Regions from separate parts of the Homo sapiens genome. Here all the other regions are linked to region 1. Evidence: fine-mapped expression QTL. A gene starts in region 1. Each other region holds a variant in brackets. All regions are shown on one strand. Distances are from middle to middle.

The links. PIP is the estimated chance that this variant, and not a neighbour inherited with it, causes the effect.
Region 2: its variant is fine-mapped to the expression of CCDC141 in skeletal muscle (GTEx, PIP above 0.99).
Region 3: its variant is fine-mapped to the expression of CCDC141 in caudate (GTEx, PIP 0.98).
Region 4: its variant is fine-mapped to the expression of CCDC141 in whole blood (TOPMed, PIP 0.99).

The regions. Positions count from the first base shown.
Region 1 is chr2:179,048,935-179,051,624 of GRCh38, reverse strand. CCDC141 (coiled-coil domain containing 141) reads left to right here and starts at 1,488. Exons shown (of 24, transcript NM_173648.4): 1 at 1,488-1,785. The coding sequence starts at 1,684. RefSeq lists enhancers at 1,412-1,491, 1,502-1,751, 1,942-1,991.
Region 2 is chr2:178,857,330-178,860,019 of GRCh38, reverse strand. All of the region lies in intron 17 of CCDC141 (coiled-coil domain containing 141), which reads left to right. Among named protein-coding and RNA genes, the nearest start is that of TTN, 51 kb to the right of the region's middle. The variant A/GGTA (reference allele first, on the strand shown) is at 1,577.
Region 3 is chr2:179,274,159-179,276,848 of GRCh38, reverse strand. No RefSeq gene overlaps it. Among named protein-coding and RNA genes, the nearest start is that of SESTD1, 11 kb to the right of the region's middle. RefSeq lists an enhancer at 1,903-1,952. The variant T/C (reference allele first, on the strand shown) is at 1,625.
Region 4 is chr2:178,832,983-178,835,672 of GRCh38, reverse strand. It overlaps CCDC141 (coiled-coil domain containing 141), which reads left to right. Exons shown (of 24, transcript NM_173648.4): 24 at 1,233-2,690. The coding sequence ends at 1,500. Among named protein-coding and RNA genes, the nearest start is that of TTN, 27 kb to the right of the region's middle. The variant A/G (reference allele first, on the strand shown) is at 1,541.

The sequences.
Region 1 (2,690 bases):
AAGCCTGTTTGGTGGTCTCTTCACACAGATGCAAGTGAAAGAAGGAGCCTGCCTGCAACCTTCCAGGTCAGTTACCTCTTTGCAAGCTCTCCAGCCCTGCCATAAAATGAAACCATTTGCAATAGTTGCTACATCATAGCTTGCTCGGCATCTGCTTTCCTGAGCTCGCTCCAATTGTTCCCTTCATGGGGTCAGGTGAAGTTCGTGTTGCATAGGGACTAGGATCTAGGTATGGTTTCCATCTCACTGGGGCAGCAGGCAGATGCTGAGCGCAGAGGACATGGGTGGTGGCTACACAGCTGCAGAGCAGCCATGACATGCTCTTGGAAACAAAAATAATTGAACACTGAAGTATGTGTAAAAGTACTTTTCCCCTTTGAATCAAGAATATGATCATGAACCTTAGCAAAACAAAGCAATGGAGCTGACTCAGTCTTCTAAACATTGGCCCTGAACCTGAACCTACTATTAAATTGGGCTAAAAGGTTTACAGAGCAAGTGGATTCATTAAAACTGTTTTTTGCTATATTCTCTGTTGTGGCTTTGTCCCAGAGATTTCCAATGCTTCCAGCAGCTTTGGAGTTAGTAACTCTGATATGTTTGCATCTGACTTCTGACCTAAACTTTAGTGTTATTTTCAGCTGTTCTTTGACAGGGAATCCAACAGCTGCTGTTTAATACCACAGACAACTTGTGACACAGGCTGAGTTTCTAGCAATAGGATTAATCTACCAATGTGGGGCACTGATTTGAAGCTGGCTATAATTTTCCTGAACAGGAGGTGGGGGTAGGGAATAAAAAGCCTGAAGCACAGTACTTTCCTTTTTGTTTTTGTTTTTAATTGCAGCAAAATATATGTCTTAATAACTTTTAACCACACAGAAAACATTTTCTTGCTGCAATTAAAAGGTAACAGCAAAGTATTTTGCTTTCTCATGGTATTAATAACTGAACTTGAAAACCTTGTCCAATGGAGCAGAATAGTCACAAAGAAAATCTGAAATGATAGGCACCTATTTATAAATGCTGGTTGAAATATTTTTTAAAAATTCCTAAGAAATCTGAGGCTCTGAGAAAATGTGGCTATTCCATCTAAACTTCATTTAGCAAAGAACAGTAAGTTTTAGAAAAGCAGATTAATCTAAAAATGTGTTTTAAGCAATTTGTGACTTAACCCCAAGACAAATACCAAAACTTTTTTAAAGTACACTTTGGTAGTTCTCTTTGCATCAGAGAGATTTCAAAAATCTTGAAAAGATTGATAACCAGGTCAAAGACTTACTTGTTTCAAAGTCCATGGTTACAATGGCATAGTTTCGGTGGCAAAACTAATTTGGGTTGTCAGGATGTAATTTTTTTTTCCATTTGTTATCAAACATCAGCTGATAAGGAAAGAGCTTGAAGCTGTCCTCCACATTTAAGATAACAGCAAAAATAACAGGCACTTAGTGTCACCATACTAGGGGCGTGGCAATTCTCTCTCGTTCGCTCCTTTCTCTCTCACGATAAACTCAATGGGGTTGTCTATTTTTAACCTCCTGTTCTTTCCTTTTGGCAGAGTAATCAGTGTGAGCTGAGCTCTTTCCCTGAATGAATCCAAGTAACCCTGGCCTTCTGAAATGACCAGCAGACACACAACTGTCCAGAGGCTGCCCAAAGTATAAACTCTGGTTCTAAAGTACCATGTCCAGCCAAGGAAGTCCTAGTGTTGCGCTTTCTACGACGACAGTCAGTTCAGTTGCTGTGCAGGCTGGGGACTCCAAAATCGTTATAGCTGTCATAAAGGTAAGCTAACAACTTCCTTTTTTCTGTGCGGCTGTGGGCTTCTAGCTGTGTGTTGAAAACCCTAAAGAACATTCCATGCAATCGGCAGGACACAGCATAGAGAAGACAACGCAGCAAGCACTCTTACTGCTTTCTAAAATGGGCTACTAAGAGAAACCTCTACAAGTTTCAGCAGTTACCAGAGATTCTCTTTCCTTTCAGTCAGCCAGAAAGCATCTATAGCAGCTTGATTTAAAAAAAAAAAAAAAAAGAAAAGAAAGAAAAATAAAGAAAAGAAAACCTCTAGCATATACTGTCAATTTGGTCTTTAAAAGCAAGGCATTGGTAACTGGAAGTTCATGATTGCCTGACTAAAGAGTCCAATGGACCTGTGGAATGCTTGTGATTTTTGAGAGTGGATGTGATGGAGGTGGGAGGAGGCAGGTCCCGACAGACAGGGGGAGGGCACTGCTTTAAGCACGATGGAACTCAGAAAACACCAAGTAAAGGGCTCCGACATGTGCCCTTTGCCACACTGGTTTTGACATGGTAAAGAAACTACTAAATCCTTGTCCAGTAACGAAGACCATGCAAGGAAAGGTACAAAAGCTTTGTGTCAAATTTGCTCTTAACAGCAGGAAGTAGAAGCCACTTAGGGTTTACAATTACTGCATGTTTTATGACAACCCATTTGCCCATTTGCAAAGATGACCACACATCTTTAGGCTGAAGAAGAACTCCATGATTTTATTCTCCATGGAAATGCCCTGTAAAAAAAAGCTTTCAAGCACTAGGCTTGGGCTTTAGATGATATTCCACCTAAATAATTCAGTGTTTAATGAAGGGAAAGCTGGCAAACAAGCTGATGGTCACAAACCAGTTACTTTCAGGTCCCCACCAGGTTTAATTGAATGACTTTTCTGGCC
Region 2 (2,690 bases), 190 kb after region 1:
AAATGCATTAAATGCATTTCTGTTTTAAATATCCCATGTCCCTCACACAAATTGGCCTTGACAGCAGCAAACTTATAAATAATACATTCTTATGCCAAAGCTGGCTCAACCAGCTTCGTCAAGACTAACAATAGCAAGCCAGCCTCACTTGGCATCAGCCTCTTTCCCTTCTGCTTCTTTCCAAAGAAGCTTTGTTTATTCCTAACCCTGAGAAGGGGCTTACGGCATGCTGGAAAATTTGGCAAAGATGCTCATTCTGCTAATTTCAAAATAGCTATAGTTTTTAAATCTTAATAACTTATTTCTAATTATAGCTATGTTAACTCAGTCTGTTTATTCTATGGTAAATATAGAAGAGCTGAACATGTGAAAAGATGGGAAAATAAAATTATTCATTAAAAATATATTTTCCCTAATTTTCTGAAGACTTTGAGGAACTTTAATATGAATTATAACACCATTTCAAGATTTCTAACAGGGTAAACTTTTTCTCACCCCAAGCTTGGGGTGTTTTTCTCCACTTATGTGCTCAACTTGAGCAGTTGTCTCAGCCCCATCCCGCCATTCCCCATTGTTGACAAGTTGACTAAAGTTAGAAACAGCTGTGTGAACAGTGATACCACAGCCCAGCGACTATGGCACTCAGTTCCTTTAAAAATATGACCACAAGTTATGTGGGGATTAGATGGGAAGTTAAGTTTTCATATTGGAAAGTGCAGGTAAGAAAATTAAGAATGGCAAGATTTTTCAATCGCTGAAGGTAGTTTCATGCATACTGCCTTCCACTTGTATCTGCAGTAGTCCTGAATTTGAGTTGAAAAAGGCACAGAGATTTAGTTTTAAAATGGATTTCCAGTGAAACCAAAAGAGAAAAGTGCCAGCAACTTTGTCAAGGGAGCTCATGTGTCAGAAAGAACTTGATCCCATTTCACATACTCATAGTGTCATGAACATTCTTTGACCTTATAAATCATCTTCAGTGGAAGTGCACACGTTCTGAAGCAAACAGAAATCAAATCACACTCATCATTTATCAGTCTTAAATTTCTTAATCCAAAGTAGATTTAAAATCTCATGGTTGAGAATTAAAGTATTAAATCTCAGCCTTTCTCTATCATATAGGTTTCAAATAGACATTGAACTTTCCCATTTAAAGCAGATGTAATCCAATGGTTATCAGGTTAATGACAGAGCCCCTCTTCCTTTCTCTAGACTAAGGTTTTCTGATATATGTCACATTTCAGTAGAGAAAAATATATGACTATATTTTATATATTCTTATATATAAGTAGAAGAATATATAAGTTTATTTTCCAATGGATAAGTGTTAGTGACAGGGCATTTTTTCCCTTTATTTTTAATTGTGGTAAAATGCACATAGCATGAAATTTACCAGCTTAACTGTTTTAAGTGTATAGTTTAGTGGTATTAAGTACATTCACATTGTTGTGAACCCATCACTACCATCCATCTGCAGAACTTTTTTATCAACCTAAACAGAAACTCTGCACTCATTAAATAGTAACTCATTATTGAGATGTTTTTTAAAACAATAATGTCTGGTTTCCTCAGATGT[A/GGTA]CTTATTATATATGTAGTTGCAAAAACTCCTGCCAAAATTTTATGTAAATTACTAAGGATATAACGCCTTTATATCTCAATCTTATAAAATTGACATTATTTATCCTTTCCTGTTAAAACCAAACATACGCACATTAAAACATTGAGTGCCGTAGAATGTAAATACTTACTAGTTATTTCACAAATATATCAACTGAATATGATCTTTTAAATATTCCCCTGAGTTTCTAATAGAGAAATAATGTTCAAATTCTGAAGCTTTTCACTTTTTCTGAACATTACTGATTTATTTATCAGTTAAAGTGGTTCATGCGGTCTCTATGCTTGGTTTAGTTTGTAACTTAAAGTAATGTTCAACAACTTTATTTACCATATAAACTAAACAACACTGATTAAGTATATGTGTATCAGATGCAAAAATTCTATCAGTATAATAATTTCCGTTCGCAATTCCACTAGGGCTTTAAAGTTGATGTCTCTAAGATGTGTTACAGATAAGATAAAGGCTTTATTTTCACAGTCTGCAGAATTTGAAATAAGCATTTTGAGAAAGCATGCATTTTGTAGGGCAAGTATATTTTTCTGCATTACAATTCTATAATCTAGCACATGCACAGTCTTTATTCCCTCCCAAATAATTTGTTTGCTATCATTGAAAAGAATTTTAATGCTTTTCTGACTTCTCTTATCTTAGCTCAAATTTATCAACCATGACATTGTTCACTCTTGCTGTTAAATGCCTCCATATAATCTGAGAAGGTGTTTTTTTCTCTGTACTTCTCTTTGGTGATAATACAAAGAGAGAGTTGCCTGTCGATATGCTTATCCTTCTTAAATATAGAGAAGGGACAGAAAGTGGTGCATTTAATGGAACTGCACTGCTTAGAAATTTGGTGCACTGGTAAAGTTGAACTGTTGTTAAGACTGTCAAAATCTATCCCCTATGTATAGCTATATGCTTTATTTATACACAAGTTAGCATAGCCGTCATTAGCAACAACTCTCACTTTACTTTTATTGTTTTTGAAGGATCTCTGAAGTTAATGGTCTATATCTAAGGGGTAAAACTCTTTTCAGAACTGCTCACGAAAAATAATTTTTAACTGGGCAGATA
Region 3 (2,690 bases), 230 kb before region 1:
TATCTAGAAATGTCATCTGGGAGCTAAGGCCTGGAACAGGAGCCTCACAACTCTGACTGGTGCCCTATTCTGCTCTGGCTGAGCTGCTACCCAAAGGGTAAGACAAAGTCCTCCCTACTTTTCTGTCTTCTCTCCTCAAGCAGAAAGAAGAGGTCTCTTTAGAAGCCACAAGCTGTGCAACCTGGGGTTAAGGGAGGGGTGATGCTCGCATTCCCTTAGCTGTCCCAGATGATGTCCCAGTAGCTTGCGTGGCCCCCAACCCTCTGCCCCACCCAGTTCACTGGCTCTGGCCCAGTTAAGCACTAGGGCTGTCCTAGGTGTTGCAGTCCTTGTGGCTTACACTGTCTTTCAAGTTTATCTGAAGCACCAGAGCACTTTAGCCTGCAGTGGTAAGCCTTGCAGGAACTCAAGTTCCGACTGCCAGCATTAGTGAATCTACTCTGGCTAGAGCTATTTTAAATGCACCCTCCATGGGCGGATGTCAGCTGAGTTTGGCCTGGTTTTGCTGCTACAGTAAGGGCAACACTGAGTTCAATGCCTCATAGATGCTGGCTCTCCCTCTCCCTAGTGCATAGAAATGTCCTCTGCACCACGCCACTGCTGCCCGGGGGATGGGGGAGGGGTGGCATCAGTGATTCAAAACTGTTTTTCTTACCTCTTCAGTGCCTCTTTCTGCAATATGAAGTTAAAATCAGGTACTATCAGTGCTCACCTAATTTTTGGTTCTTATGAAGGTTTTTTTTGTGTGTAGATAGTTCTTAAATGGGTATCCTTGTAGCAGGAAGATTGGTGGAGGCTTCTATTCCACCATCTTGTTCCACCCTTCCTTTATGTGATAAGTATTTTCATGTGTCAACTTGGCTGGGCCATATTGTCCAAATATTTGGACAAACACTTTTTGGATGTTTCTGTGAGCATGGTTTGGTATGAGATTTACACTTACAACAGTCAATTTTGAGGAAAGCAGATTGCCCTCTGTAACATGGGCGGGCCTCATCCAATCAATTGAAGGCCTCAATAGAACAAAAGACTGTCCTTCCTTGAGCAAGAAGGAATTGTGTAGCAGATGACCTTTGGACTTGAATTACATCATGAGCTCTTCCTGGATATCTAGCCTGTCCACCTACCCTATAGATTTTGGACTTGCTAGCCTCCATAATTGCATGAGCTAATTTCCTTAAAAAAAAGTCTCTATACACACATCCTATTGGTTCTATTTCAGAAAAAGTCTGACTGAAACAGTTGCCCTATTAGTCGCATTTGACCGAGTTGTTCATTCCCTCGTCCTTTGAAAACTTTATTTGCTTGGTTTCCAGGATAACACACTGTCCTGGTTTTTCTCCAACCTCACTGGCTGTTTCTCCTCAGTCTCCTTTGCTGATTCCTCCTCATTTTCCCTGCTTCTAAATGTTAGAGTACTCCAGAGCTGAGTCATTAGACCTCTTCTCTATTCTAGTTAATCTCACCAAGTCTCATGGTTTTAACATTATATATACACTGCTACACCAACACATTCCAAATGTATATTTATAGTCCAGACCTCCTTCTTTAACTCCAGGCTCATCTGTCCAGCTGCTTATTCTAAATGTGTGCTTACTGTCTGATAGGCATCCCAAAGTTAACA[T/C]TTTCAAAGCCAAATTATTGAGCTCTGCCTCTTTCCCAAACTGTTCCTCCTCATAATCTTCTCCATAGTAAATATAATATTATCATTCTAATAACTCAGGCCAAACACCTCAGAGTTATCCCTGGATTTCTGTTTTAGTGACACCTCCCATCCAATCTGTCCGGAAATGCTGGTGCTCTATCTTTAACATATAACCAGAATCTAACCACTTCCTACTACCCTTGCTGCCACCACACTGGGCCAAGCCACCATCATGTCTGCCCTGTGTAGTAGCTCTCACCTTGCAGCTGGTCTCTGTACTTCCACCCTTCCCCCAAGGGATTCATTCTGGTTGCACGCAGCAGCCAGAGTGAGTCTTTAAAAATACAAACCCCACTTATCACTCCTCTGCTCAAAAGTTTTTCAACTTGCTCAGAGCTGAAGCCTTAGTCCTTACAATTCCCTAAAAGGCTCTATACAATCTCTCTTCCCTCCTCCCATTCCCTTTTCCCCCTTGCCCTGGCAGATATGACCTCACCTCAGGTCCTTTCATATGCTGTTTCCTCTGCTTGAAATGTTCTTCCTACAGATGAACATTCCCATAGTTCCCTCCCCTCACCTTCTCCAGTCTTTGTTCAGTGGCTACCTTCCTGGTGAGACCTTCCAGGTCATCCAATCTAAAACCCAAACTATCTCCCATTCCTTATTACTTCTCCCTCCTTAATTTTTCTCCATAACATTTCTTTGACAAATGCACATTTTACTTCTTTTTCTGTCTCCTCTCTCATTACAATGTAAGTTCCATAAGATAGGAATTTTTGTTTTATTTGCTGTAGCATCCTCAATTCCCAATATAATACTTTAACATAAAAGGCACTCAATAAATGTTTGTTGAATGAATGAATGAAAAAAAAAACTGTAAATACTCATTTTTGGAAAGAGTATGGGGAAAAAGACAATCTCTCACATTGTGGGGGAAAATATAATTTATGCACTATTTTTAGAGGTTTTTGTGTCCTACAGTGAGCTATCAGCTCTGACACACACAGCAAATACATTTTGTGCCTAAAGCTGCTTAACTTACGTC
Region 4 (2,690 bases), 220 kb after region 1:
CTACATACGTGTCGTTGAAGAATATTGCAATGTTGTAAACAAATGTTTTGTCGTCAGATTTACAACTGTGCTCAATTAATAACTGACAAGCTTTCAGGATATCATACATTCTTAGGATACCCAAGAAAAGGCAAAGTTATCACTTAGGCAATGGGAACAGAAAACGATTCACATTTGTCATCACCCCTGAGTGATAGATTGTGGGTAGAAATAAATAAACAAGAATCTCAGACATACAAAATAAAATTATTTCTTTATAAAACCATGCAGTTAAGCACTCATGTTCATAGGAACCTTCTAGAAATATGTTATTAATAGTCATAATACAGTTGCATAAATACCTTTTATAATTAGAAGTCATTTTCTTCTAATGAAATTGCTTCAAAAAAATTAAATGAAGTGATCTCATCAGGAGGTGATATTAAGTACAGTCCTCTAAAACAGCACATCTGTATTGTCCTGTGGATACTGTGGTATGAATATGATGGGGTAGATGAGTCTCACTCCCATGCAGTTTATAAGGAGTCACAGCTGCTGTTCCAGAGTGGCAAAAAGAATAAAGCTGGACAACATGAGGGTGCCATTTCACACCCTAGGTAATTGTTACTATGAGCAAATGGTGGCCTAGTGTGACCAAATGGTCTGCTTTGTTTTTGTTTTTGTTTTTAGGGGTAGCTGGATATCTGAATTTTCATATGCAATATTCCAATTTTTAAAGGATTTCAAAAAATTCAGTTTTCCAAAAACATTGTCTGAGCCAGTCAAAGCAATTCTCTCGCCACCAGTTGCCAACTTCTGCTTGAAAGATAAACAGCGCATAATACCAGCTACTCAGGAGGCTGAGGCAGGCAGATTGCTTGAAACCAGGAGTTCAAGACCAGCCTGGGTAACATAGCGAGATCCTATCTCTTAAAAAAAATAAAAAATAAAAAACTTAGCCTGCACATGGTGGTAAGCGCCTGTAGTCCCAGCTACTTGAGAGCCTGAGGTGGGAGGATTGCTTGATCCCAGGAGTTTGAGACCGCAATGATCTCTGATTCTGCTACTGCAATCTAGCCTACTAAAGAAAAAAAGATAAAGAGCCCCACTGGAATTTGTTGTGGCTACAAGGTTCCTACTAATCCTAAGAGAATATTGCAGTGGTAATGGGCCTATTTGCAAGCATTATTAGAACTTGGAAATAATGTGAATAAACAGCAATCCTGACTTTAAAAACTGCCTCTCTGCTTCAGGTACAAGAAGGGCCAGAAATTGTCTGCAGATGGGCACTTACAGGTTTTACACAAGGAGACAAGGCATTCGGTGTTCATTCCAAAGGTATGCAAGGCAGACGCAGGCCTCTATGTGGCTCGGGCCCAAAACTCTAGCGGCGCTCTCTCTTCCAATGTCATCCTCCACGTGACAGGTAACTGCAGGCTGCCAATCACAAGAGTAAACTGGATAACCCTGTGTGTCGTCTATGTTAGTGTGTCCCTAATGTACTGGCTCCTCACACAATAACTGTGGTGTTGGCACCAATGGACATCATTCTCATGTGCCT[A/G]AAGAAAAGTGCCGCCGTTTATCTTCCTGCACCTCCTGCAAAGCATCTCCCACCAAGTGTATCTCCAGTCTGATCACCATACTTGTTTGGCTAATACCACTGCTAGGTGAAATAATCAAATTTTCTGGAGCGTTTAATATATTTGAGAAGCTTGGTAAATTATCTGTAGTGGATAAGAACAGATTTTTGTACTCTAGAAACAGATGTTTTCAACATAATATGCAGCAAAATTATTCTATGCCTATTCCCTCCTAATTTAAGGGCGTGCAGATGAAGGCTGACATCGGCATAGAAATGTGCTAAATTTCAAATATGGTTGTTCAATAATATATTTTTAATTGTATTTTAAAACATCCCTTTGTAGGGAATATCAGTAGAACTATTGAATTGATGTTGTATTTTTGCATTAGCTGTCCTTTAATTTTGCTTTCCATGTCTTGATCTTGTTACCGAAATGCATTCTGTGTAATTTCAACGTAGACTACGTTCCTGAGTCTGATGATGTCATTGTAAATAATCATTCCTCATGTTGCTCTCACGGGTTTGACATTGGAGGATAGATGTGCCATCAACTTTAAATAGAGTTTCCATCTTTTGTCAGCTCTGCATGTCATACAGCAAGATGGAACACAGGTTGCAAGAAAGAACCAACGTTATTCCTGACATTCTATTGATGTGTTTTGAGCAGCAATGTGTAACCAGGTGTTTCTGCTTCTAATCTTGATTCTGCTGATGACCATTTTTATACTTTATGGCAAAGCCTCATTGCCTCAGTTTCCTGTCTGGAAAATGAGTTCATCATCTACCTCTTGGGCAATTGAGAGTTTTCATTTTGTGTCTTTTAAACATCTGGAAAATGGAAAACACTGAGGGCTAAGGATAATGATATTGTTTAATGTAATTTGTCATCAGACCGGCCTCCTGCTCACTATTTCTTTTTTTTTAGATGCTGTTTTTTTAGAATATTAAATTAAAGGAGTGCTGTTAATATGTAATCTTCAACTAGTTCCATGGAGGAAAGTGATGTTTTATGAATTAGAGCTTAAATTCCTATCTAATTTCTGAAGACTGCATTCTTTTCAAAGACTTGAAATTAAACTCAGGAGGATACATTTTGTTTGTTCTAGGGGGAAACGTAATAGAATGGTAT